Homo sapiens: one gene and its partners. The gene in region 5 interacts genetically with the main gene of each other region. Each region holds a gene or a part of one and is shown on either strand. Other genes may lie near its edges. The genes, in order: IFIH1, SUV39H1, ZC3H7A, ENO2, PTEN, RAD54L and SERPINB6.

Region 1 (3,500 bases), on a different chromosome or scaffold from region 5:
GCAAGTCCTCTTTCTCCAGAATACATATAATGTGGTTTGGAGATAAAATTAAGTGAAGGTTTGGTATCTACATCAAGTTAAATAGATTTTAAAATGCTCAAGAAGTATACATATATATATATAAAATATACACATATTACATTAAATGCAACTGAAGTTTTCCTTCAATAATTTATATCTTAGGGTATTTGAAGGCCATCTTCATAAGTAAATATGTCTGCTTCACCGTAAAACAAAATCTAGTCATTTGAGCTTTATTCAGATAAATGACAGTTTATTAATTTATAAATATACAAATTGGGGATATGAATATTTACTATTTTATGGAATAAAAATGAGCATACTTTTCCTTGATCAGAAAGTCTTTTTTCTGTTCTTATCTATTCCTTTATAAAAAAAAGCAGTAGACTGTAAAATATTCTATTTTTTATTTCTATTATGCTAAAAGTTTTAGTTACATCCTGTTTTTCAGTACTTAGAATCCATGATTTGAATGATTCCTATCATGTAGTTCCAAATGCATTTTGTGTGCATCTGCTAAGTCCAAAGAGCTCTCCTTTATACTTGTATACTTACTATTAAAACACTTTTATTTATTTTGCTGGTAATGGTGACACATTCAAATTTGTTTGCCGATAGACTTGCATATGTATTCCCTTTGTACAGGATATTATTTTTTTAAATGAAATAGGTTTGAATCCTATTTCTACCTACCGGTACTTTGAATTAGACAAATTAGTAACTTCTCTAACTTTAATTTCTTCATCTGCAAAATGAACAAAATAATAACTACCCTGCTCTGAAATTTCAATTGGATTATATATGGCCTAGTAATGACTCCTGCTTTTACTCTTAAATACTAGCTTTCTCCTGCTCCTTTCTCTTCACCTTCATAACTCATGAAACTAAGTAACATAACCAGGGAGGCTTTTAAGTGCCAAATCCAAAGAAAAGAACCAAGTTAACTGGATTCAAAGCTACTTAAACTGATAATTTTGAAACCATTTGAGCATCTGCCATTTTCTCAAACTCAGCCTCACCATCTACCCTCCCAAAGGCTCCTCTTCCCCATTTACCTGTCTCTTTGTGAGTAATACCACCTCCTCCAAAGCATGCAGCCCCCACACCTAGGAGTTAGTTTTAATTCATCTACTTCCTTTATTTCCCTTATCTGGTCACAGGGACATAGGCTAATAGAGTTGAAAAGGGGCTTCGAGATTCAGCTTTCTTCCTTTGCAGAGTGGTTCTCTCACTTCTGCAGGGTAACTTCCTAATATCAAGGAGGTCCCCCTACTAACAAGACACTGACACTCTTAGAAAGCCCTATTTGTATTCATCCAAATCTGTTTCTCTGGAATCCCACAATCACCGGTTAGAGTTCCTTCCTCTGCAACCACACGAAGTCCTAATTCTCCAGCCTAATGACAGCCCTTCACATAGACAAGGCAGCATCATGTGGCTCCTAAGTTACTTTTTTTTGTTGTTCCTTGGAATAAATGTCCACAGTTCCTTTAACTGTTTTCCATATAACATGGTTTCTAAACCTGTCATCATTCCTAGTGCTCATACTCCTTCAGACATTTTTCTGGGACACTCTTAAATGCGGTGTCCAGAGTTGGGCAAAATACTACAGATAAGATCATACCAGTGCAGAGCGTAGGAGACATGAGATATGACACCCAGCTTATGACCGCATTTGCCTCTGGCATCCACAGACTTATCTGGACCTTGTCATAGAATCAAAATCCTCAGTTCCTTTTTATTTGAAAATCTCTTAAACTAGAACATTCTTAATTTATTTTTGTGCAGTCAGTTTCTGAGCCTAAATTCAAATACTTAGGTTTATTTCTTTAACTATTGATCTTTTCAAGTCTCATATTTTTGTATGTGTCTGATGCATCTTCCTTTCTATAATATTCCCTTCTCTTCTCAATGCTATATTCTAGCCAGGAATCTTTCATTGCATTGGATCTACATGATTCTTCGGAATGCACATTTATGGCTATGTTTAAATATTAATTTATCCTCATTAATTATTCACATTCACTGCATTGTTGTGTGGACACCTGGGGACTTGACTCTAATTCCTTATTGCTTTTCTATTGTTTTTCTCCTTAGAATTACTAGAAATCCCTCCACTAATTCTTCCATCTATGTCATAATTGTTTACTATACCATCTTTTTGAATTTTAAATTAATTTCAGTTTTAATTCTTTTTGATTGAGTCAGAACACCTCTGGCCCAGTAAGTCTAAGTAACCTGAATCTTGTGTTTGGCCCAACAACAAGGTATTGTTACCCTTGATCTAGAAAAAAGAAATCCTGTTCTCTAACACCATTTACTTTCATCTCCCTTCCTCCGTCCTTTCCAAAGTTATAGCCTTCGAATGCAGAGAGAAATGAAAACACCACCTGTGTTCCCAGACTTTCCATTTCCTATCTAGGGCTTCAACATCATGAGAGATAAATCCCAGGTTCCTTCAGATGCTGCAATGCAGCCCCATATGATTCAGCAGAAGTGGGTAGCAGTTGGGTTTGATTAGTCTTGGCAGGCACTCTGTCACATCTCAAGAAAAGGCTCCAAGAGGACCACACACCTCCCAATTAGCCATGTCAGACTTGCATCTGGCTTTCTCTGTGTCCTTCAGTAGGAAGTCAACACCACCCAGAGCGAGTATCAGGATTTCCAGCATCTGCTATCTCCTGTGACAACTTCTTTTTGTTCTGTACATCAGAAGGTGCGGCTTCTTTTGAAGATTTTTGACTCACCTTTTATGGGCAGAATTTTGTGGTGCAATGTCACTCCATAATACAGAGATTCTTAATTAAATCATTCAGCATGAGTGTATTTAAAGACAAATCAAATGTAGATCTTGTCCTCACGAAATATACAGTCTAGAAGAAAGATGAGAGATATATGTTGATAATATGATAATTAATATTTTATTGCACTTTATAAAGCACTCTCAGATATATTATCTCATTAAATCTACACAGCAACCCCATAAGGTAGTCTTTATTATTCTCATTTTTTCCCATCAGAAAACTGAAGTTTCAAGACTTTAATTGGCAATTCAGGGATCATCCAGCCAAGAAACAGCAGAAATGAGACACGAACTTTTATCTTCTGAGTCCACTGGTCTTCCTTTGCCACTGCACCCTCCTTCTAGAATAAAAGGATTGGTGAAATATCGTGGAAGTTTTAGTACTGACAATACAGCATCCTCTATTTCATTTAATTTTCACAACCCTATAATAGGTTAACATTATCCTCATTTTATTAATCTGGAAATTGAGAGCATTAAGATGATTGAGACCTTGTCCAAGGTACAAAGAAGTAAGTGGCTGGAGTAGCTGTTTTCAGGGCTTTCTTCCCTCTGCATCATGCTGTCTCTTTCCACTAAACTTAATTTCCATTCTTTTCCTCAGAAGCCTTCTGTCTTGCATAAATGAAATGGAAAGAATACTTCTAGAAAATGATTCAAGAACGGCTTTGTGGAA
Region 2 (3,500 bases), on a different chromosome or scaffold from region 5:
CTAAAGAATTTTCCTTGGTTCTCTGAGTGACTGGTGTGCCTTTGGGAGGGGTCCTTGTGTCCCAAGTCACAGTGCGCCCCTGCCCCCAGTCCCTTGCCACCCCCACCTTGCATGTTGTAATCAAAGGTGAGCTCCTCGCCTGCCCGGATGGTTCTTGTGGCAAAGAAAGCGATGCGGGGCAGCCGCTCGTCAAGGTTGTCTATGAAGACGTTGTACACCTGCAGGTTGGGGTCACACTGGGCGAGAAAGAACAGTTGGGAGAGTGAGGAGGGGCTCCAGCCTGCCCCTCTCGACCCCTTGCCCGCCTGCCGGGGGTACCCACACTGTGGTTGACAAAGTGGGAGATGTTGCCATAGTAGGCGGCATCCACGGTGTACACGTCCTCCACGTAGTCCAGGTCAAAGAGGTAGGTGGCGCCCTGACGGTCGTAGATCTGGCCCCGCCGCTCTGCCTCCTCTGAGGTAATGATCTAGGGAAAGGGCCATGGGTAAGGGGAGATTGGCCGCGAAGTCTCAGGAAAGCCGGCACTGCTCCTGACTTCTGAAGGACAGGGAGCAGGAGGCACCCCTGCCCGTGGACACACATGGGCAGTGACGCAGAGAGTCTGTCGGCCCTTCCTGAGGAGCTGGGCCTCAGCTGGCAACTGCCTGGCCCGCCTCAGGCCTCTGGCTAGCAGGAGGAGTCCCTGGCGGTGAGTGCAGGCTGGCCTGGCTGCAGGGCCCAACTGGGGCCACGCGAGCACCTCCTGCCGCCACCCAGCAAGAGCTGCCCAAGAACCCCTGGAGCCTCCAGTGCCTTGGGACGGAGCAGGAAGGTGATCAGGAGAGACCAAAGCAAGGGCAAGAAAGAAAGTGACCCAGGGTGCCACAGGGAGAGATACTTACTGATCCAGGCAAGGGAGCCTGAGCCCATGCAGGACCCAGCAGGGAGGGCGTGGAGAGAGGGGAAGAAGAGACCCAGGCCATGGGGAAAGGGGGCAAGGGCCTCAAGACAAGAGAGGTGGAGGCAGAGGCAGAGGGAGGCCCAGGTTCAGAGAGCCAGAAAGAGGCTGAGGCCACACACTTCAGAGACAGCAGCAGAGGAGGAGGAAAGATGAAGGGAGAGCACAGTGAGAGAAGCTCTCCCTCGGCCCAGGGCTGCGCAGTGCCAACTGGTGCTTCAGACGGCAGTGGGTGCCTCCTCCCCAGCTGGTTCCCTACCTGTCCTAGGAAATGGGAAGCTTTGCTGCCATCCTAGCCCCAGCCTGTCCTTGCCTCCCAATCCACGCCAACAAATCTCCGGCCCCATGGCCCCTCTTCCCTGAGGCCAGCAACGGCAGCCTCCTGCCAATCCCCAAGCGTAGCTGACCAGGCCCTTCCCTGGGTAGGGGTCCCACTGTACCTCAGCCAAGAACAGTGCACAGCACACAGGAGACACATGGGGACTGCTGTTTACTTTGATTCTGCTTCCTGGCTTAGCAGCCTGTCCTCTGTCCAAGTGGCGGCCCTCCAGGTAGCTCCAGTACTCCCCCGCCACACTTCTTCCTTCCCCTCCCTTCTCCAGAGACCCCTCTCGGGCTTCCTTCCTTGCTCACCCTCATGTGGGCCGGTGACCATGCCCTTCTGACTTGGGAATCCATCTCCTTAGCTAGGATGGCCACACTGGTGTTCTCCCTGGCTGTCCCCTCAAGGCTGTGTTCCATGCCAAAGGCTGACTAACAATGCCTTGAGGAAACCAAGATTTACCCTGCCTCGGGCCACACTACCCACTGCCCCGTGCTCCAGTTCTGTTCCTTGAGGAACCTGGCTCCCTTGCCAGGGTTTTTATTGAGGCCTTCCTTGTGCCCAGTCCCAGCATGCAGGGCTCACGGTCTGATCAGGGAGACACAGGGACCAGGCCCGGTCCACTCTCAGGGGTCACAGGTGGGTAGGGGATACACAGGAACCAGGATTGGTCCCTGCCCTCAAGGGGTCAAAGTCTGGTCACAGAGAGACAGATTCACACACCCACAGTGTAAGACTGTGATCAGGAAACAGTGCTTAGGGCTTGAGGGGGAATGGAGAAGAGACGGATTCTCTAAAACGAGTTGCAGATCATAAAAGGGCTTTACCACCTGGTGGAAGAGTGGGGACTCTCTCCTAAGGGCCACAACATGAGGGTGGAATATGTCAAGATCAGTCTCCCTTCACCTCCTGGAGAACAGTCTTCCTTGTGGCATCAGCTCAAACAGATGGGACCTCTCTAGGCAGCCTTCCAAGCTTCCCGTTCCTCCCCTACCTCAGAAGCTGGCCACTTGTCTGATCAAGTCCTGGGATCAAAGGGCAGCCTCTCCCAGGCTCACAGGCCTAGTGGGTGGGGTATGAGCCATCTTTTTCACCGTAGGCCCTCCTTGAGCCAGGAGGAGTGCCCACATCCTTCCTAGTCTCCATCTTCATGCCTATTCTGCCACTACCTGCTCTCCCAGTCTCACCAGGAGTGAGTCATACTGCAGGCCCTCCAGGGCACAAACACTTCTTGGTTCCTTCTCATCTTCTTTTCAGTCCCATTCTCTAATGATTGGTCAACCCTGAAAGCTTGGGAACAGATGGGCCTGTCTCTGCTCCCTAACAGCTCTCCAGAATGAATGGAAAAGACAGGCTGTAAGCTGGCAGTTCCGAGAGGGTGCTGACGTGAATGGGAACTAGAAGACTTGGAGTCAGCTGCTGCTCTGCCCCCTCCTGGATATGGGATCCTGAATGTTCTCTCTGTGCCTGTTTCCTCAGCTAAAAAAAAAAAAAAAAAGCTACAGCCTGGCAGGGTACCAGTTTTAGATATTATTTGGGCCTTTATTTTTTTATCCATTGTACTACTTTTGTGATTTTAATCAAGTTATTCTACCTCTCTGGGCCTCAGTTTTCTCATCTGCAGAATGGGAATGACAGTGACAAAATCCCAACCTGACAGGGGCTGTTGTAAAGATCCATACAAGATCATGGACGTGAAAGGTGTTCCTGTTTCTGATAGGAGAGTGAGCAATGTTAGGAGTGGTTATGAGGACCAGTTATAAATGTAAGGCACACCCTTAATTTTATGTGCCCTTTACCAAGAAAGGAAAAACTGCTGTTAATTATAAATGATACACCATGATTTAATTAAGACATCTTCATTTCCGAGATGTTAAAATAGGAAGAAAATGCATGTTTTAGAATGGATAAAATAGGCTGGCATTGTCTCTTGGGTGAGGATGGGAATGTTCTGCAGGAACGTGAAAGTTCTGACCCAATGTGGGAGGCTGCAAAGGAGGGAAGGGCAGCTCCCGTGGAGGGAGCTCTTGGTACAGACTGTCAGTACATGTCCCAGCTGAAGAAGGACAGTAGATAGCATGGTGTGCAGATAGGCCCTTGATTCCGTAACACCCTGGCAGCATCTGGGACGGCACTACAGAATCAAGTAAATTAGAACTGCTGCAACGAAATGTATGACTATTACCCCAAGTAGGATAAATAAAAACTACAAATAGGACCCTATCCGGTCAGGCTGGG
Region 3 (3,500 bases), on a different chromosome or scaffold from region 5:
ATCCCAGCTACTCGGGAGGCTAAGACACGAGAATCACTTGAACTCAGGAGGTGAAGTCGCAGAGAGCCGAGATCGTGCCACTGCACTCCAGCCTGGGTGCCAGAGTAAGACTCTGTCTCAAAAAAAAAAAAGAAAAGAAAAAAAAGAACTAAACTAAAGCGTGATAGAAATAATGAAGGAAAATGACAAACTTTTATACATGCTAAAAGAATGTGTATACTTACTTGATAAGAAAAAAGTTTAACATCCCCCTCCCCCCAAATCAGTAAATGACCTGAGCAATTTACAGAAAAAGAAATACAAGGGGTCCGTAAAAATGTGGAATAGTTCAACTTCACTGGTAAAGACATGCACATACAAAGAGGATACCATTAAAAAAAATAAATAAACACAAAACGATACCATTTTCCACCTAGAAATTGGTAGATTTTACATATATGTGCACGGGTACCCACACACGTGTACACACACACACACTACCTAGTGTGTATGGGTGCTATAAAGTAAACCACTAGAAACATTTTTCATCATGGCCTTTTTGGAAGGCAATTTGGAAATACTGCTCAAAAGCCTTAAACTATTCATTCTCTTTGACTTGGGGCTTCCACTTGGTTTCTCTAGCGGGCACAGAATTGGAGATGTGAACAAATATTTATAAGGTACTTTGCTGCATTTTTCTTAATAGTGAGAAATTGAATTTCCCCTTGAAAAAGCAAGCAAGATTCAATCCCTAGCTGAGATAGCAGTGACTTGGGCTGCATCTCACAATTTCTTAGAGCAATGCTGCTGTTCTGTCACATTGTTTCCTGTGAAGTTTTAGGTATAAAAATTAAAATTTACTTATACCATATCTTGTTTGATAAAAGGCTTCAAGTGGTAACTTTCTTTTTTTTAGGTATATTTGCGTGCTCTCGTGAGAAATCTTTTTAATGAAGGAAATGACGTTTATCGGGAACATGATTGGAACAACTCGATAAGCCAGTACACGGAAGCCTTGAATATAGCTGATTATGCAAAATCTGAAGAAATTTTAATCCCCAAAGAAATAATTGAAAAACTATATATAAATCGTATTGCCTGCTATTCTAATATGGTGAGTTGTAATTTTTAAAATGATGTTTCTAGAGTGAAAAGAATTTTTTCAATGACTTAGTACATTAATAAAAAGTCAATTTCTTAAGTTTTTAAGAAAGTCATATTACCTGCTTTTGGAGTGGCTTGAGGCTTTTAAAAATTAGCTTTGGATTGGCCGGGCACGGTGGCTCACGCCTGTAATCCCAGCACTTTGGGAGGCCAAGGTGGGTGGATCATGAGGTTAGGAGTTTGAGACCAGCCTGGCCAATATGGTGAAACCCCGTCTCTACTAAAAATAAAAAAATTAACTGGGCATGGTGGCGTGTGCATGTAGTCCCAGCTGCCCGGGAGGCTGAGGCAGGAGAATCGCTTGAACCCAGGAGGCGAAGCTTGCAGTGAGCCGAGATTGTGCCACTGCACTCCAGCCTGGGCGACAGAGCAAGACTCCGTCTCAAAAAATAAAATAAAATAAAAAAATAAAAATTAGCTTTGGACAGAAGGTTAGGGATTTAAGAAATAATTTGTTTCTTAGTTATTGGTCCTTGATGATTCCCATTTGAGTATGGCTTTTGAAGGTGTGTCTGCTTATAAAAAAGTCATCCAGGGAAGATACAGGTCTTCACAGGTCAGTGTGTCTTTCAGGTATCCCTGTTCACAGTTAACATCTTAGTCAAGATCCAGTTGATCTTGTAAAACACTCTTGGTAAAAAACACTCTTACGAGTGTTTTTTTTTTTTTTTTTTTTTTTGAGACAGTGTCTCGCTCTGTCACCCAGGCTGGAGTGCAGTGGCACGATCTCGGCTCACTGCAACCTCCGCCTCCTGGGTTCAAGCAATTTTCCTGCCTCGGCCTCCCGAGTAGCTGGGACTACAGGCGCATGCCGCCGTGCCCAGCAAATTTTTTGTATTTTGTTAGAGATGGGGTTTCACTGTGTTGCCCAGGCTGTTCTCGATCTCCTGAATTCAGGCAATCTGCCCGCCTCAGCCTCCCAAAGTGCTAGGATTACAGGCGTGAGCCACCGTGCCTGGCGAGTGTTTTTTTAAATCAAGAAATAGTAATTAGTCTTCAAAGGAATTCACACTAGATTTTCACATTTTTAAGCTTAAAAGCTTTTGAAGTGCTTTTTTTTCTTTTTTTCCTTTTAAAACTTTTTTTTTTTTTTTTGAGACAAGAGTTTCACTCTTGTTGCCCAGGCTGGAGTGCAATGGCACAATCTTGGCTCACCGTAACCTCCGTCTCCCGGGTTCAAGAGATTCTCCTGCCTCAGCTTCCCGAGTAGCTGAGATTACAGGCATGTACCACCACACCTGGCTAATTTTGTATTTTTAGTAGAGACGGGGTGTCTCCATGTCGGTCAGGCTGGTCTCGAACTCCTGACCTCAGGTGATCTGCCCGCCTCAGCCTCCCAAAGTGCTGGGATTACAGGCATGAGCCACCACGCCTGGCCACCTTTTTTAAATTTTTGAGATGGAGTGTCACTCTGTTGCCCAGGCTGTAATGCAGTGGCACAATCTCGGCTTACTGTATCCTCTGTCTCCTGGGTTCAAGTGATTTTCCTGCTTCAGCCTCCCGAGTGCTGGGATTATAGGCACCCGCCACCACGCCTGGCTAATTTTTGTATTTTTAGTAGAGATGGGGTTTTTACCATGTTGGCCAGGCTGGTCTCGAACTCCTGACCTCAGGTGATCCACCCACCTCGGCCTCCCAAAGTGCTGGGACTACAGCTGTGAGGCACTGTGCCCAACCTGAAGTGCTTTTAATTTTCACTGTGGATACTCGGTAAAATATAACCATGAATTTAAGAAAAATATCCGTGTTGTCACCTAGCTCTTTGTTAAAGAGCATTCATTGTTTATTTATTTTGTTTTGGGTAATATATTCCTTATCAGTTAGCTGTTTGGAGTTACGTTTCTGTTTGACATCTTAATGTGCTCCAGCAAAGGGTAACTACAGAGGAGCGAATAGGAGAGGGACACATGGGGACATCAGTTAGGTCTGGAAAGCTTTATTTCTTGAAGATCTGGGGACTTTCTGACCAAATATTAGCATTTGTCTGACCTGGATGGTGTGTACATGGGTATTCATGATATTCTTTCTACTTTTTTGTATTTGAAATTTCATAAAATAATTTAAAAAATAAAAGTAATACTGCTAACTTGGAGTTTAGAGGGAGGGTAATAGGATGGGGTATTAATTTGTTTTTATTACAGGAAGGCCTCAGTGCAAGAAATGAATTGTTTGATTGCTGACTTTATTCTTTGGTCTTACACACCAGGGTTTCCATGATAAAGTTTTGGAGGACTGCAATATAGTCCTCAGTTTAAATGCCAGTAACTGCAAAGCTCTGTATCGGAAATCTAAGGCTTTAAGTGATTTAGGAAGATACAAAAAGGCTTACGATGCTGTAGCAAAGTGCTCCTTAGCAG
Region 4 (3,309 bases), on a different chromosome or scaffold from region 5:
TGAGGACTCTGTTTCCTTAGGTCCTTCCGTATACTACCCCCGGAACCATTCTTCCTTCCCATTTCCCCATCTTGCAGTGGGTGATGGCCATGAAGTCCTGTTCCATTCGAGAACCAGCCAGGGTTTTGTTGGCAGAGGCCCAGTACAGGAGCTGCTCCAGTCCACAAGCCCTTTGGATATGAAAACACCTTAGACCCCCTTTCCCCCAAAATGCGCGTGCACACACACACACACACAAAATATTTTATGCTTTTAGGGGCTCTTGAACCCCTTAATTCACCTGCGTCTGGGAGCCAAGCCTTCTGCTAAGAAAGCAGGGGCCACATGCACCCCACCTAGCCAGAATGGGGTAGGCAGTGCCATCATCTCGGCCATATTTGTTCAGTTTGTCTTCCTCTTTTTGTGCCCCCCCAGCTCTGCTATCCAGTTTCACCAGCTTCCAGGTGCTCCATCTTCTCTCCCCTCATAGGGACTAGAGTAAGACTCCTTAGACACAACAGTGCACTGATTCAGACTTTAATGGAGGTGCTCATTTCAATGCCACAGAGGTGGTGGCAACTGTGGAACGTGGCATGGGGAGTGAGAGGTTGCTCTGGTGCAGCTGGAGGAAGAACAGGGAACCTAGGGTTGGGGAGAGATGTATAGAGGAAAACTCCCCCAGGCACACAGCCTCCGCTCTGGACCAACGCAGGCTTCAGTGAGTACACACAAAGGAACTGATGTCAAGGCCCTTTCTATGACCCTTCCCATTCTAGCAAGACCTCCCACCCCAGTCATCTTGGGATCTACAGCCACATGAAATACAGACACATCGTTCCCCCAAGTCAGGCCAGTTTTAGGCCATTGAGTTATGGGGAAATGATTAATGGGATGAATGAAAAACAAATAAAATAAATAAATAAATAAATACACTAAAGCCTTATTAGCCAGGCGTGATCACATGCCCAACACTCCCCTCCATCCCAGCACTATGCACAGTTCACGGCTCATATGCAAAGTGGAAGACACGTGGGACAAGAGCAAAGCACAAGTGACACATGGTCCCTCTCTAACACCTCAGCACACCAACCCTGACGCTCCCATCACAGATGCTGATCATTCTTCCACGGACCCCCTTTTATAATAATCCTCATTCACATTTCTAGTTTCTGAGGGAAGAGAGAAAGAGAAAGGAAGAAGTGGAAAGTGCGGAACCCCAATGAGTAGGGCACAGAAAGGAGGGCGAGCAGAGACAGCAAGAGGTCAGGTAAGCCAAGGAGCAGCGGAGCAGGTCAATCAGGGAAGTTCTGGGCACCCTGGGGCTCAGGGGATCTCAGGGGGTGAACTATCACAGATCAGGACAGCAAGGTTCCAGGAGGATGAGACAGAGGTTCCACGTCTCCAGGCAAGCAGAGGAATCACAGCACACTGGGATTACGGAAGTTATGTCCGGCAAAGCGAGCTTCATCCCCCAGCTCTTCCTCAATTCTGAGAGAGATGAACCACAAAGGAAGTGGTCAGGGATGCAGGAGGATCCTGCTTCTCTCTCTAGGGGTCCCCCAGACTCCAACCACCCCCACACCACCTGCTTTTGTGTCCTGCCCCAAGGCTTAGCATTCCCTGGCTTTCCCATGTGATCTCTGGGATTTGTCAATCAGGCCATCAATAAACCCAGGAAGCAAAAACCAATATTATCTGTTGGACTGTTATCCAGGAAATGGACTGTTATCCAGGCCCTTGGTGCTACAGATGGTCTGGCAGGCAAATGGGGCCTTTAGCCATCTGGGCCAGGGGCTCCCACCCCAGGGACCCTCACCTCATGAGCTGGTTGTATTTAGCCAGACGTTCAGAACGGCACGGGGCACCAGTCTTGATCTGAAACATTTCAAAGGATTTGCAGCTCAGTGACTGCCCTCTCACCCCTGAAAGGAAACTTCTGCTCTCCTGAAACTCCCCTGACACCCTCAAACACCTGGAAGGAGAGACCAGGTGGGTGAGCTAGAAATACCAATCCCACAGAGAGTTCTCTTCACTCACCAGGCTGCCTCACTCACCTGGCCTGTGCACAGCCCCACCACCAGGTCAGCAATGAATGTGTCCTCAGTCTCTCCTGAGCGATGACTCACCATGACCCCCCAGCCATTCTCCTGGGCCAGCTTGCACCTGTATCCACACACAGCACTGATTCTCCAGCTCTCACACTGGGCACTCTCTTCCCAGCCCCAACCTTGGTCTATGTCAGGAAACATCTAGGGGAAAGCTATCTGGGAGGGGAGCAGAGAATCAGGGGTGGAGGGGCAGAGGTGAGAGAACTGTGAGGATGATTCCAGGTTCCCCGCTCTCTTTGGCACCCCTGGGTAGAATTAGGCTGGAGCACTTGCAAAAGGAGTCTTATAGAAACGAGGACCACACAGGAGAGGGCCAGAAGTCACTCACGCTTGGATGGCTTCAGTGACCGAGCCGATCTGGTTGACCTTGAGCAGCAGACAGTTGCAGGCCTTTTCTTCCACTGCCCGCTCAATACGTTTTGGGTTGGTCACTGTCAGGTCATCACCCACAATCTGGATCCCTACATTGGCTGTGAACTTGGACCAGGCAGCCCAATCATCCTGGTCAAATGGGTCCTCAATGGAGACCACTGCAGAGAGAGCATGGTGGGGAGGGGGGAGGTGTTCATCTTCCCTGGGTCTCTACATCAGGCAGGAACATGCCCCTTTATTCCCTGAAATGGACAGGCCCTTGGTTAACTACACCTGCTCATCCTTGCTAAGACAAATCCCCCCAGTGTAAGCCTGCCCTAACTGATTCTTAACTTTTTTTTTTTTTTTGACAGAGCCTCATTCTGTCATCCAGGCTGGAGTGCAGTGGCACAATCTCAGCTCACTGCAACCTCCACCTCCCCAATCAAGTGATCCTGCCACCTCAGCCTCCTGAGTAGCAGGGACTTTAGGTGTGTGGCACCACACTCAGCTAATTTTTAAAATTTTTGTAGAGATGAGGTCTCACTGTATTGCCAGGCCAGTCTCGAACTCCTGGATTCAAGCAGTCCTCCTGCCTCGGCTTCCCAAAGTAATGGGATTACAGGCATGAGCCACCACGCCTGGCTCCTGATTCTTATTTCATAAAACCTTACATGGAGAGGCCAGGCACAGTGGCTCATGCCTGTAATCCCAGCACTTTGGGATACTGAGGTGAACGGATCACTTGAGGATAGGAGTTCCCTGGCTAACATAGTAAAACCCCATCTCTACTAAAAATACAAAAATTAGCCAGGCATGGTGGTGCACGCCTGTAATCCCAGCTACTTGGGAGGCTAAGAGAATCGTGCAG
Region 5 (3,500 bases):
TCTTTCTAGAAAAACTCAATATACTAAATTGTACTAAAAAGGAAAAGCTTGTTTTGTTTTGAGTGGTAGTATGAAAGTTGTTTTATTTTAGGTCTGACCAGTTAGAAACCAATGGATTGTAGTTTATTTATAATTAGTTAAACCTTCATGTGAATTTGGTTTTGAATTACCTTTAAGGTAGAGAAGAAACTATATAGATGTTTTTCAGGGTTTCTAAATGTACAATACAGGTTCACAATCACTTATTTGAAACTCTTGGGGCCAAGTATGTTTCCATTTTCAGAAATTTTAGTTTTCAAAAGGTAGCACAGATAAATATACTTTTACATAAACACCCCAGTGGGGTGTGGGTCAGTACCTGAAATGAAATGTTTTACTCTTCGCTCTAAGTGTATTAAATATTATGTACAATCTTATTACTTCAGATCAGGATTTGCTGTAGTTGAGTTTGCCATAAAACTTAAGAGAAAATTTTAGATGTTTTGAACTTTTGGGATATTGAAATTGCAGGTTAAGGAGCTATGGACCTTTATTTGTTTTAAAATGCTAAGAGTTTATTTTAAGTAATTTTTAAAAAATTTGTTTTGCATAGTAGTTGGAGTTACCAGGGTACTGCTAACCACACTGATATGTAAGATCTCTTTCTGAGCCTTTTATTGTTTGTAAACATGGCCTGTTAATCATTAGAAAGCCAGTACATACTAACATATCACTGCTATTAAGACAAATATTAGCATACTCTAGTAATGACAAGTCAGCATTTTACTATTCTGTATTGATTTTACTTATTCTTTCATTACTCTCATACTGTAATTAAAACTTGCAATCTGAGAGACTGTTGAAAAAGGTGATCGTTGGCTTTTCAACAGGGAGTAAGGTCTGGTTTAAAAAAAAATTAGTAAGCATTTGGCCAAGTAGATTAACAACATTCAGTTTTTCTTTACTGTCCTTATGCTTTTACTATTTTTAACATATATCTTTTTGAAGAATAGTTTGAGAATTATGTATGCTTAACTATGAGATACAGATACTATTGAAACTAGTCAGTTGTTTATAGGTACTTGTAAAATTAAAAATATATTCCAATAGCATGCAGATTTTTCATAGAGGAAATTTGAAAGCATGGAAGCACCTGAATTTACAGTACTCTGTATTAGTGGCATCACAAGTTTTTAAGCAAATGTATTAGCTCTAATTGCATACACTTAATCTTTTAAGCTTTGGTTTTATTATTATAATATGGGGGTGATAACAGTATCTACTTAATAGAATTCTTGTTATTACATGAAATAATTAATGTTAAACACAGCATAATATGTGTCACATTATAAAGATTCAGGCAATGTTTGTTAGTATTAGTACTTTTTTTTCTTCCTAAGTGCAAAAGATAACTTTATATCACTTTTAAACTTTTCTTTTAGTTGTGCTGAAAGACATTATGACACCGCCAAATTTAATTGCAGAGGTAGGTATGAATGTACTGTACTATGTTGTATAACTTAAACCCGATAGACTGTATCTTACTGTCATAACAATAATGAGTCATCCAGATTATCGAGTGAGATACATATTTAAGAATTATCTTTAAAAATTTCAAAAATTTTAATTTTACTGTTGTGTTTTAGGAAAAAGTATTGCATAAAGCTATTAATATTGTCAGGAAGACTAAAGTGCAGCATAGACTAAGAATTAGGAAAATTCCTAGACTAAAAATAGTATAAGGAGAGGGTTTACCTACTATTTGAGGCAGTTGGTCTAATAGTAAGCAATCACAGGGAGAAAGCAGAACTACTTAACTCTTCTGTGTTGAGGAATGACATAAAAGGTAGGAAAGGATATAACAAATGTTGATAAGAGGAGTCTGATGGATGAGAGGAGGGAACTGCTTTAAATGAGTTTCTACTTCAGACATAAGTTAATTCTCAGAGCCCACAAAAACTTTCACTTTTATTTGTGAAATACAACTCAGTTCTCATGGCTTAACACTTTAAACCATGAGAAAACTGAAGAGTTGAGAAGCTTGGCAGATGCTGCTGTGATAGTCAAAAAGAAAGTGGGTGCCATGAGCTACTATTGATGTATTTGCCATTGATCCCTCCTGAAAATCTAGAATGGACTTTCAGACAAATGGTTTGAAAATTCTAAATCACTAATGATTGAGATTTAGTATAGGTTTACTAAGAACGGGTTTTTTTTGTTTTTGTTTTTGGTGGATTTAGGCTGTTGCTTACTAAGCAAAGCAGGCTTTAGTTGAGGTTTATCTTGCTTTAAACAGATATTTAACAGATTTTCCTGGAGGTTTTTGTGTACCACTGGGAAAATGAAGTTAGGCAGATGACTAAGTGAAAGCTGTCCTGCTGACTCCTTATAATGATAGTCATTGTCTACCAGAAGATCTCTCCTGTCACACCAAAGGATAATTGATTATATCCTGTACCATATTATGAGTCACCTGATTGGAGATATAAGACATACTTCTCACATATTTAGATGACACAGGTTAGTACATTGAATATCAGCCAGGGTTTTTAAGGATCTTAATAGAGTGGAACTAAGGTAGAAACTATTAAGAGCAATTAATAGTGATATATCTATAGTCCTGTTTCTAAACAAGTTTTTTTAAAAACCTCAACTCTGACTATAGTGAACAGAGAAGTCTTGGACTCTTACAATTCATGTGAGAAGACCTGAAACTTTGATAACAATTATATACATTTTGTGAGTAATTTCTTTGGTGTATGCCTTCACATATCTCTGGTATGTGACCTATGCTGCAGTCCATTGAGCATAGATTCCCAGAATGTATTCTCCTGCAGAAAATGGAGGAAAATAATACTTGGCTTCCCTAATGATTACATGTGTATACAACACTAACATTTGCAAGACCACCTTTAAATAACACACTTAGCATTTTTATTTTATGAAATGTAATATGTAGTTCTTTGCATAGTTTATCCTATTAGTAATCTATTCTGTCTTTGGAATATGTTTTGTGATGATGAAATAAATACTATAAATAGTATTATTCCTTTTGCATTGAGAGTCCTGACGAAATGTCCATGTGACAGTTCATTTTGGGTTTAGCTCTACCTCTAATATGTGACCTATGCTACCAGTCCGTATAGCGTAAATTCCCAGAATATATCCTCCTGAATAAAATGGGGGAAAATAATACCTGGCTTCCTTAATGATTATATTTAAGACTTATCAAGAGACTATTTTCTATTTAACAATTAGAAAGTTAAGCAATACATTATTTTTCTCTGGAATCCAGTGTTTCTTTTAAATACCTGTTAAGTTTGTATGCAACATTTCTAAAGTTACCTACTTGTTAATTAAAAATTCAAGAGTTTTTTTTTCTTATTCTGAGGTTATCTTTTTACCACAGTTGCACAATATCCTTTTGAAGACCATAACCCACCACAGCTAGAACTTATCAAACCCTTTTGTGAAGATCTTGACCAATGGCTAAGTGAAGATGACAATCATGTTGCAGCAAT
Region 6 (3,500 bases), on a different chromosome or scaffold from region 5:
GGATTCATGAACCAGCGTGGAGCCAGGGTGTCTTCTCCCATCCTCATCATTTCCTATGAGACCTTCCGCCTTCATGTTGGAGTCCTCCAGAAAGGAAGTGTTGGTCTGGTCATATGTGACGAGGTACTTGACTCTCAGCAGTCTGGGTGGTAGGAGAAAATCTGTCAAAATCTCTTCACTGAGTATTGCCTTCCAAGGGCTGTGCTAGTCACTGGGGAATGCTGAAGACAGGATGCTGCCTTGGAGACAAGTGACAGGGAGAGCCTGTGATACCAAAATACAAGATACTGTCTGCCAAAAGAGGGCTGAAACAATGCTTAGAACCCTGAGGAGAGTGAGATACTGGGGGCTGATTGGCTTTGTTGCCTCCGGATAGTATTCCTAGACTAAAGAAGGACCTTGAAGGGTGGGTGGCAATGTTTAGAGGATATAAATCAGAAAGTGTCTGAGACAAGTCTCAATTTAGAGATTTATTTTGCCAAGGTTGAGGATGCTCTGGGGAAAAAGAGACACAAGCCAAAGTAGGATCTGTAGCCTGTACTTTTTCCAAAGAGGTTTTTGAGGACTTCAATATTTAAAGGGGGGCTGGCCACGATGATTCACGCCTGTAATCCCAGCACTTTTTGAGAGGCTGAGGTGAGTGGATCACTTGAGCCCAGGAGTTTGGGACCAGCCTGGGCAATATGGTGAAACCCCACCTCTACTTAAAAAAGATAAAAATAGTCAGGTTTGGTGGTGCACCTGTAGTCCCAGCTACTCAGGAGGCTGAGGTGGGAGAATCAGCTGAGCCCGGGAAGTAAGCTGAGATTGCGCCACTGCACTCCATCCTGGGTGATGGGGTGTGAAACCCTGTCTCAAAACACACATATGACCGGGCGCGGTGGCTCACACCTGTAATCCCAGCACTTTGGGAGGCTGAGGCGGGCGGATCATGCGGTCAGGAGTTTGAGACCAGCCAAGATGGTGAAACCGTGTCTCTACTAAAACTACAAAAATTAGCCGAGCGTGGTGGTGGGTGCCTGTAATCCCAGCTACTCAGGAGGCTGAGGCAGGAGAATCTCTTGAACCCGGGAGGTGGAGGTTGCAATGAGCCTAGATAATGCCACTGCACTCTAGCCTGGGTGACAGAGCAAGACTCTGTCTCAAAAAAACAAAATAAAAACCAAAAAACACACATATACACAGACACACATGACCCTTTCTCAAAAAACAACACCACACAAATATGCATAAAGGGGCAAGAGCAGGCAGGAGGGAAAGAGGAGCCATCAGTTATGCATTCAGCTCAATAAATCTGATTTTACATACAGTTAAGTAAATAAAGAGTAGAGGAAGAAGTCAAATACACATTTGTCTGGGAGGGAGGATTTCTAGTCTTGTCTTTGTCCCCTGCTTGTAAAGATGAGCTGTTTTTTTACATTGTCAGGGTGAGGGAGGCCACCTGGGGAGAGGCATGGCGTTCTATCTGCAGCTATCTGTTTAGGAACAAAAGGAAAGACATTTTTTTGCTTGACTAGTTCCCAAGCTTAGCTTTTCCCTTTGGCATAGTTTGGGGTCCTGAGATTTTGTTTTCCTTTCACAGGGAACAGGTTCTAGAGTTAGAGACCTTTATTTGTATCCTGGCTCTGCCACTGACCAGCAGTGTGACCTTCAACAAGTTACTTTATCAGCTGAACCTCTGTTTCTACATCAGTAAAATGGGGTGATAATATCTGCCTCATAGGATTATTGTGAGGATTAAATGAAATTATTAAGAAAAAGCTCTTATCGCAGTGCCTGGTATGTCATAAGGCCTTGGCAAACGTAAGCTCTTGGTGGTTATTCCAGGCTGGGGGTACTTGCAAGAACAAAAGCAGAGATAAGAAAGTCCATACACCTTGTAGTAGTAGTTTGTGTTGACTTCTTGTTTCTTGTTTCTGGAACTAAGGGAATATGGCCGTAGTTACTTCCTGGCCTTTTCCAGTATGTGTGAATGGCAATAGAGAGGCTAGTACTTAGGAAGCAGTGAGGGTGGCTGGGAGCTTCCTACTATAGAGAATTTCCCAGGACTTCCCAGTGGGCTTGGCGACCCTGAGGCTATAGTCATTGTTTGCAACTTCTTGGGAGAGTTAACCTCCTTTGTATACCCCAGAGGTTCTAGTGGAGAGGTGGCTGAAAGACTTGGCCCTATCTGTCAACCAGTTGTCAGGCTAGGCTCAGCTCTGGGTACTGTAGATTAGCCCAGTTGTCTGAGGAACTTCAGAGAGGGGACAGAGGGAAAAAGCTTGCTTTTGGGTACCATGCTTTCTAGTTGTGAGCTATTTTCTGGTCAGTCATTGGCGGGTCTTCAAACTCCCAACTTCCTGGTAGGAGTAGGGAACTTACCAGGTTGAGGTGAGGTATGCATGTTACTGCCCTGTGGTTCAAGGCCCTGACATCTGCTTCATCACTGTGGAGGGGGACTATGCCAGGAGCCAGGTCCAAAGCATTGTGGGAGAGGAAGGCAGGCTGTAGCTGTTGAGCCTTTGAGGATTAGGGAGCATCTAAATTTTTTTCTACTTTTTGTTTTTTTTTGAGACAAGGGTCTTGTTCTGTTGTCCAGATGGAGTGCAGTGACGTGATCTTGGCTCACCGCAACCTCTGCCTCCCATATTTAAGTAATTCTCCTGCCTCAGCCACCCGAGTAGCTGATATTACAGGCGTGCACCACCACTCTGGCTAATTTTTGTATTTTTAGTAGAGATGGGGTTTCACCATGTTGGCCAGGCTAGTCTCGAACTCCTGGCCCCAAATAATCTGCGGCCTTGGCCTCCCAAAGTGCTGGGATTACAGGTTTGAGCCACCGTGCCCAGCCTTTTTCTACTCCTTAGTGTTTTTTTCTTCCCCACTCTGTCCTGTTTTATGAGCTGACTCTGTGCAGGGCACAAGGGATGAGGCTGCCTCTTATCACACTGCAGCCCCTTGGCTGTTTACCTTTCTACTTGTTTACCTTTTATTTTGTCAACTGTCAGAGATCTGAGGAACCAAAAGTCCTGAAAAGATGGTCACCTTACTCCAGGGAAGGAGAGGGTTTGTCCTGTTCAGACCCTGGAAAGGGAAGGTGCCATTTCAGGCTTTCATGTTCTCAGCTCCCACAGCATCTTCCTCCCAGTAACGCTTTTCTCTGGAACACAGTTTTTCATAATAACTTCTATGTACAAAATCTTTGATCCTCAATCAAAAGACACGGGATCAGCTCTGGCTTTGCCACTTACAAGCGTGACTTTCCACAGATGAGACTGCTCTGAGATTGTTTCTTCATCTGTAGAGTGGATGGCACATGGGCTACTTGAAAGGGATATGATACAGATCAAGAGAGGATATATGGGAGCACTTTGTACAAGTGTATAAATAGCAGAGGGATTGACGTCATCGTCATCTCAATCTTAAAGATTAGGAGACAAACTCAGGGAAGTGCGTAGTGACTTGCCCAGGTTCTCCTAGCGAGTACATAGTAAGCTGGAATGTGAATGCAGGTGTGA
Region 7 (3,500 bases), on a different chromosome or scaffold from region 5:
CACTAAATAGCATTCGATGCTAAGCCAGGTGGTGGGATGGGAACCCATTTCCTTTTTATGTAATGCTGATTTGCCTTATATTAATAGTGCCTTTCCCCCCTTTCCTTAGTTTTCTATGTACTATGTATTTTCAAATTCTCCCCAAATGTTCTACAGGTCAGTCAAACCCTTTCAGTACTTTTTTCATATGCTTCGACACAAGGAATAATCTACCAGCTGCATTTTCCTCTCCCTCCGTCTGTCACCATGCTGCTGAGCATGCGCGACTTTCACGCCGAAGAGAAATGTTCATAGACGGGGACAAGTTTCCCTACTATAATACATGGCCAATTTATAGTTTGGCAGGCTGGTCAGACTAATTTTTTTTCTCAAACACAGCACATTGCTTACAGGGCAAAGAAATTATTTTTTCTTATTTAAGTGTTGATGACATATTTTAATATGTCTAATTTTTTAATGCTTTATGCAAACTTACAAATTGCACAAACCTTAGTAGACTTTTGAACTTCTACAAATCTGATAAATCAAGACATATAAATCTAGTAAGCTAGCCTCTCCTAAGACTTTCAAACAGTACAATGATTACAAAACTTATTTCTATACCTGTACTTATGTCTAGCAAAAGTTATTCATTAATATCACAGATTTAATTATTTTATCTTTGTTATATTTTCCTATTCCTTTCCTAAGGTAACACTAATGCTTATTTTAACAGTTTCCTATGGGGAAAATTAATCTTATGGGGTTAAATCCTAAGGGATCATCCCTTTCTGTAAAAACAGGGTGGGGCTCCCTGGTTCATGGTCTTTGTGCATCAAAGCAGTTTCTCAGCACAGGGCACACACTCTTTGATGCCAAGCATATCTGACTAGTTAGGGCAGCTTTGAGCTCCAATCCTGCCTTCACTGAGATTTTATAAGGCCTCAACCAAACACCAAATTTCAGTGTCTTGTAGCCTGATGTCCTTCCTTAAAATGAAATACGGAGTTTTCCTCTATCTGAGTTGCATAGACCAGTGTTGTATGGTATAACTTGGTCTTTTTGTTGAATGTTTAGGCCTTTAAGTTGGTTTTTACAACTACTGTGTTTGTTAGCCCAGGAAGCTATAATAACTAAACTTTTTCCATAGCAATCCTAGACACAGTGCAAACATTACTGAATTCTTTTGTGCCTTTTTAAGGCTCATCTTGTTTGCCTCATCTGAACTTATTAATGAGCTTGGGCTTTTTACAAACAATATATTTCAATTTGCTGATGTTTTTTTTTCTTCTTGTTCTAATTGGCTGGTGGGAATCTCTTTAAATTAGTTACTTTCCCTCCAAACACACTTACTTTATATGCAGGAGTCCCCAGCAGATCCGTCTGTGGTCTGTTAGGAACTGGGCCACGCAGCAGGAGGTGAGCAGCAGGTGAGCGAACATCACCGCCTGAGCTCCACCTCCTGTTAGGTCAGTGGCAGCGTTGGAGTCTTGTAGGAGAGTGAACCTACGGTGAACTGTGCACGTGGTGATCTTGGTTGCATGCTGCGTATGAGAATCGAATGCCTGATGATCTGAGGTGGAACAGTTTTATCTTGAAACCATACCCCCAACTTTATCAGTGGAAAAACTGTCTTCCACAAAACCAGTCTGGTCCCTGGTGCCAAAAAGGTTGGGGACCATTGCTTTAAAGCAACAGCAAAGTCTTACCAAACCATTTTAGATTTTTCTAGTCCAAAGACTAGATATGATAGGTGCACACCACCACGCCCAGTTCATTTTTATTTTTTGTAGAGACAGGGTCTCGCTCGGTGGCCGAGGCTGGTCCCAAACTCCCGGCCTCAAGCTATCTTTCCACGTTGGCTTCCCAAAGTGCTGGGATTATAGGCATGAGCCACCAAGCCTAGCTTGGGAAAAAAATGTAAGGCACTTGCTGATTTCCTCCAGACTGGCTCTTTGTTCTCTTTTTCTGTCAAGTACAAAACTCTTAGACTGATATCATCTGGGACTTCTCACCTTTCTCCAGGCTGTGACACACACAGAAAATGATGTTTGTATGTCACTTTGGGGCCAGGCTACTCACCCCAAAGGTGACCAGTGCAGAGCTCCAGCCACCCAGACTCCTCGAGTTGGAGGGATCTGTTAACCTGCCCAGGGCACAACACCCACACACAAGTTAGAAAGTTCTGCTCTGGAAGACTGAAACTGGACCCCTTCCTTACATACACCATGTACAAAAATCAACTCAAGATGGATTAAAGGCTTAGATGTAAAAGCCAAAACTATAAAAAACCCTGGAAGACAATCTAGGCAATACCATTCTGGACATAGGAACAGGCAAAGATTTCATGACAAAGATGCCAAATGCAATCACAACAAAAGCAAAAATTGACAAATAGGATCTAATTAAACTTAAGCACTCCTGCACAGCAAAAGAAACTATCAACAGAGTAAACAGCCAACCTACGGAATGGGAGAAAATATTCACAAACTATGCATCTGACAAAGGTCAAATATCCAGCATCTATATGGAACTTAAACAAATTTACAAGAAGAAAACAAACAACTCCATTAAAAAGAAGGCAAAGGACATGAACAGACACTTTTCAAAAGAAGACATTCATGCAGCCAACAGCCATAAGAAAAAAGGCTCAGTATCACTGATCATTAGAGAAATGCAAATCAAAACCACAATGAGATACCATCTCACGCCAGTCAGAATGGCTATTATTAAAAAGTCAAAAATTAAGAGATACTGGCAAGGTTGTGGAGAAAAGGGAACACTTACACACTGCTGGTGGGTGTGTAAAACAGTTCAACCATTGGGGAAAGCAGTGTGGCGATTCCTCAGAGCTAAAAACAGAACTACCATTCAACCCAGCAATCCCATTACTGAGTATACAACCAGAGGAGAGAGGAATAGAAATCATTCTCCCATAAAGATACACGCACGCGAATGTTCACCGCAGCACTATTCACAATAGCAAAGACATGGAATCAACCTAAATGCCCATGCATGGCAGATGGGATAAAGAAATTGTGGTACATATACACCATGGAATACTATGCAACCATAAAAAAGAATGAGATCATGTGTTTTGCAGAAACATGGATGGGGCTGGAGGCCATTATCCTTAGCAAACACACGCAGGGAACAGAAAACCAAATACCGCATGTTCTCACTTATGAGTGGAAGCTAAATGATGAGAACGTGGACACAAAGAGGGGAGCAACAAACACTGGGTCCTATCAGAGGGTGGAGGGTGAAGGGTGGGAGGAGGGAGAGGAAAAAATAACTATTGGGTACTAGGCTTAGTACCTGGGGGATGAAATAACCTGCACAACAACCTGCGACATGAGTTTACCTATGTCACAAACCTGCGTATGTATCCTGAACCTAAATAGAGGTTTAAAAGGTTAAAAAAAAAAAGAAGAAATCATATAAATGAATGTTCTCTTCTGACCTTATTCCCTCATTTACACTTTTCATCATGATATTTGATTCCATTTTGCCTTCTATAC

The links.
Region 1: changes in PTEN (region 5) and IFIH1 impair growth when combined (synthetic growth defect), as found in Homo sapiens cells (one large-scale study listed by BioGRID).
Region 2: changes in PTEN (region 5) and SUV39H1 impair growth when combined (synthetic growth defect), as found in Homo sapiens cells (one large-scale study listed by BioGRID).
Region 3: changes in PTEN (region 5) and ZC3H7A together harm fitness more than expected from each alone (negative genetic interaction), as found in Homo sapiens cells (one large-scale study listed by BioGRID).
Region 4: changes in PTEN (region 5) and ENO2 impair growth when combined (synthetic growth defect), as found in Homo sapiens cells (one large-scale study listed by BioGRID).
Region 6: changes in PTEN (region 5) and RAD54L together harm fitness more than expected from each alone (negative genetic interaction), as found in Homo sapiens cells (one large-scale study listed by BioGRID).
Region 7: changes in PTEN (region 5) and SERPINB6 together harm fitness more than expected from each alone (negative genetic interaction), as found in Homo sapiens cells (one large-scale study listed by BioGRID).

The regions. Positions count from the first base shown.
Region 1 is NC_000002.12:162,284,185-162,287,684, reverse strand, and holds part of IFIH1 (interferon-induced helicase C domain-containing protein 1), read left to right. Parts: intron 1-3,500.
Region 2 is NC_000023.11:48,703,234-48,706,733, reverse strand, and holds part of SUV39H1 (histone-lysine N-methyltransferase SUV39H1), read right to left. Parts: intron 470-3,500; coding exon 323-469; intron 237-322; coding exon 107-236; intron 1-106. UniProt on the Homo sapiens protein: Histone methyltransferase that specifically trimethylates 'Lys-9' of histone H3 using monomethylated H3 'Lys-9' as substrate. Also weakly methylates histone H1 (in vitro).
Region 3 is NC_000016.10:11,776,759-11,780,258, reverse strand, and holds part of ZC3H7A (zinc finger CCCH domain-containing protein 7A), read left to right. Parts: intron 1-895; coding exon 896-1,093; intron 1,094-3,349; coding exon 3,350-3,500. UniProt on the Homo sapiens protein: May be a specific regulator of miRNA biogenesis. Binds to microRNAs MIR7-1, MIR16-2 and MIR29A hairpins recognizing the 3'-ATA(A/T)-5' motif in the apical loop.
Region 4 is NC_000012.12:6,920,889-6,924,197, reverse strand, and holds the end of ENO2 (gamma-enolase), read right to left. Parts: intron 2,618-3,309; coding exon 2,416-2,617; intron 2,143-2,415; coding exon 2,034-2,142; intron 1,855-2,033; coding exon 1,796-1,854; intron 1,669-1,795; exon of another isoform or gene 1,468-1,668; coding exon 1,398-1,467; 3' UTR 501-1,397; downstream 1-500. UniProt on the Homo sapiens protein: Has neurotrophic and neuroprotective properties on a broad spectrum of central nervous system (CNS) neurons. Binds, in a calcium-dependent manner, to cultured neocortical neurons and promotes cell survival.
Region 5 is NC_000010.11:87,929,625-87,933,124, forward strand, and holds part of PTEN (phosphatidylinositol 3,4,5-trisphosphate 3-phosphatase and dual-specificity protein phosphatase PTEN), read left to right. Parts: intron 1-1,421; coding exon 1,422-1,465; intron 1,466-3,388; coding exon 3,389-3,500. UniProt on the Homo sapiens protein: Dual-specificity protein phosphatase, dephosphorylating tyrosine-, serine- and threonine-phosphorylated proteins.
Region 6 is NC_000001.11:46,261,263-46,264,762, forward strand, and holds part of RAD54L (DNA repair and recombination protein RAD54-like), read left to right. Parts: coding exon 1-123; intron 124-3,500. UniProt on the Homo sapiens protein: Plays an essential role in homologous recombination (HR) which is a major pathway for repairing DNA double-strand breaks (DSBs), single-stranded DNA (ssDNA) gaps, and stalled or collapsed replication forks.
Region 7 is NC_000006.12:2,965,068-2,968,567, forward strand, and holds part of SERPINB6 (serpin B6), read right to left. Parts: intron 1,524-3,500; coding exon of another isoform or gene 1,333-1,523; intron 1-1,332.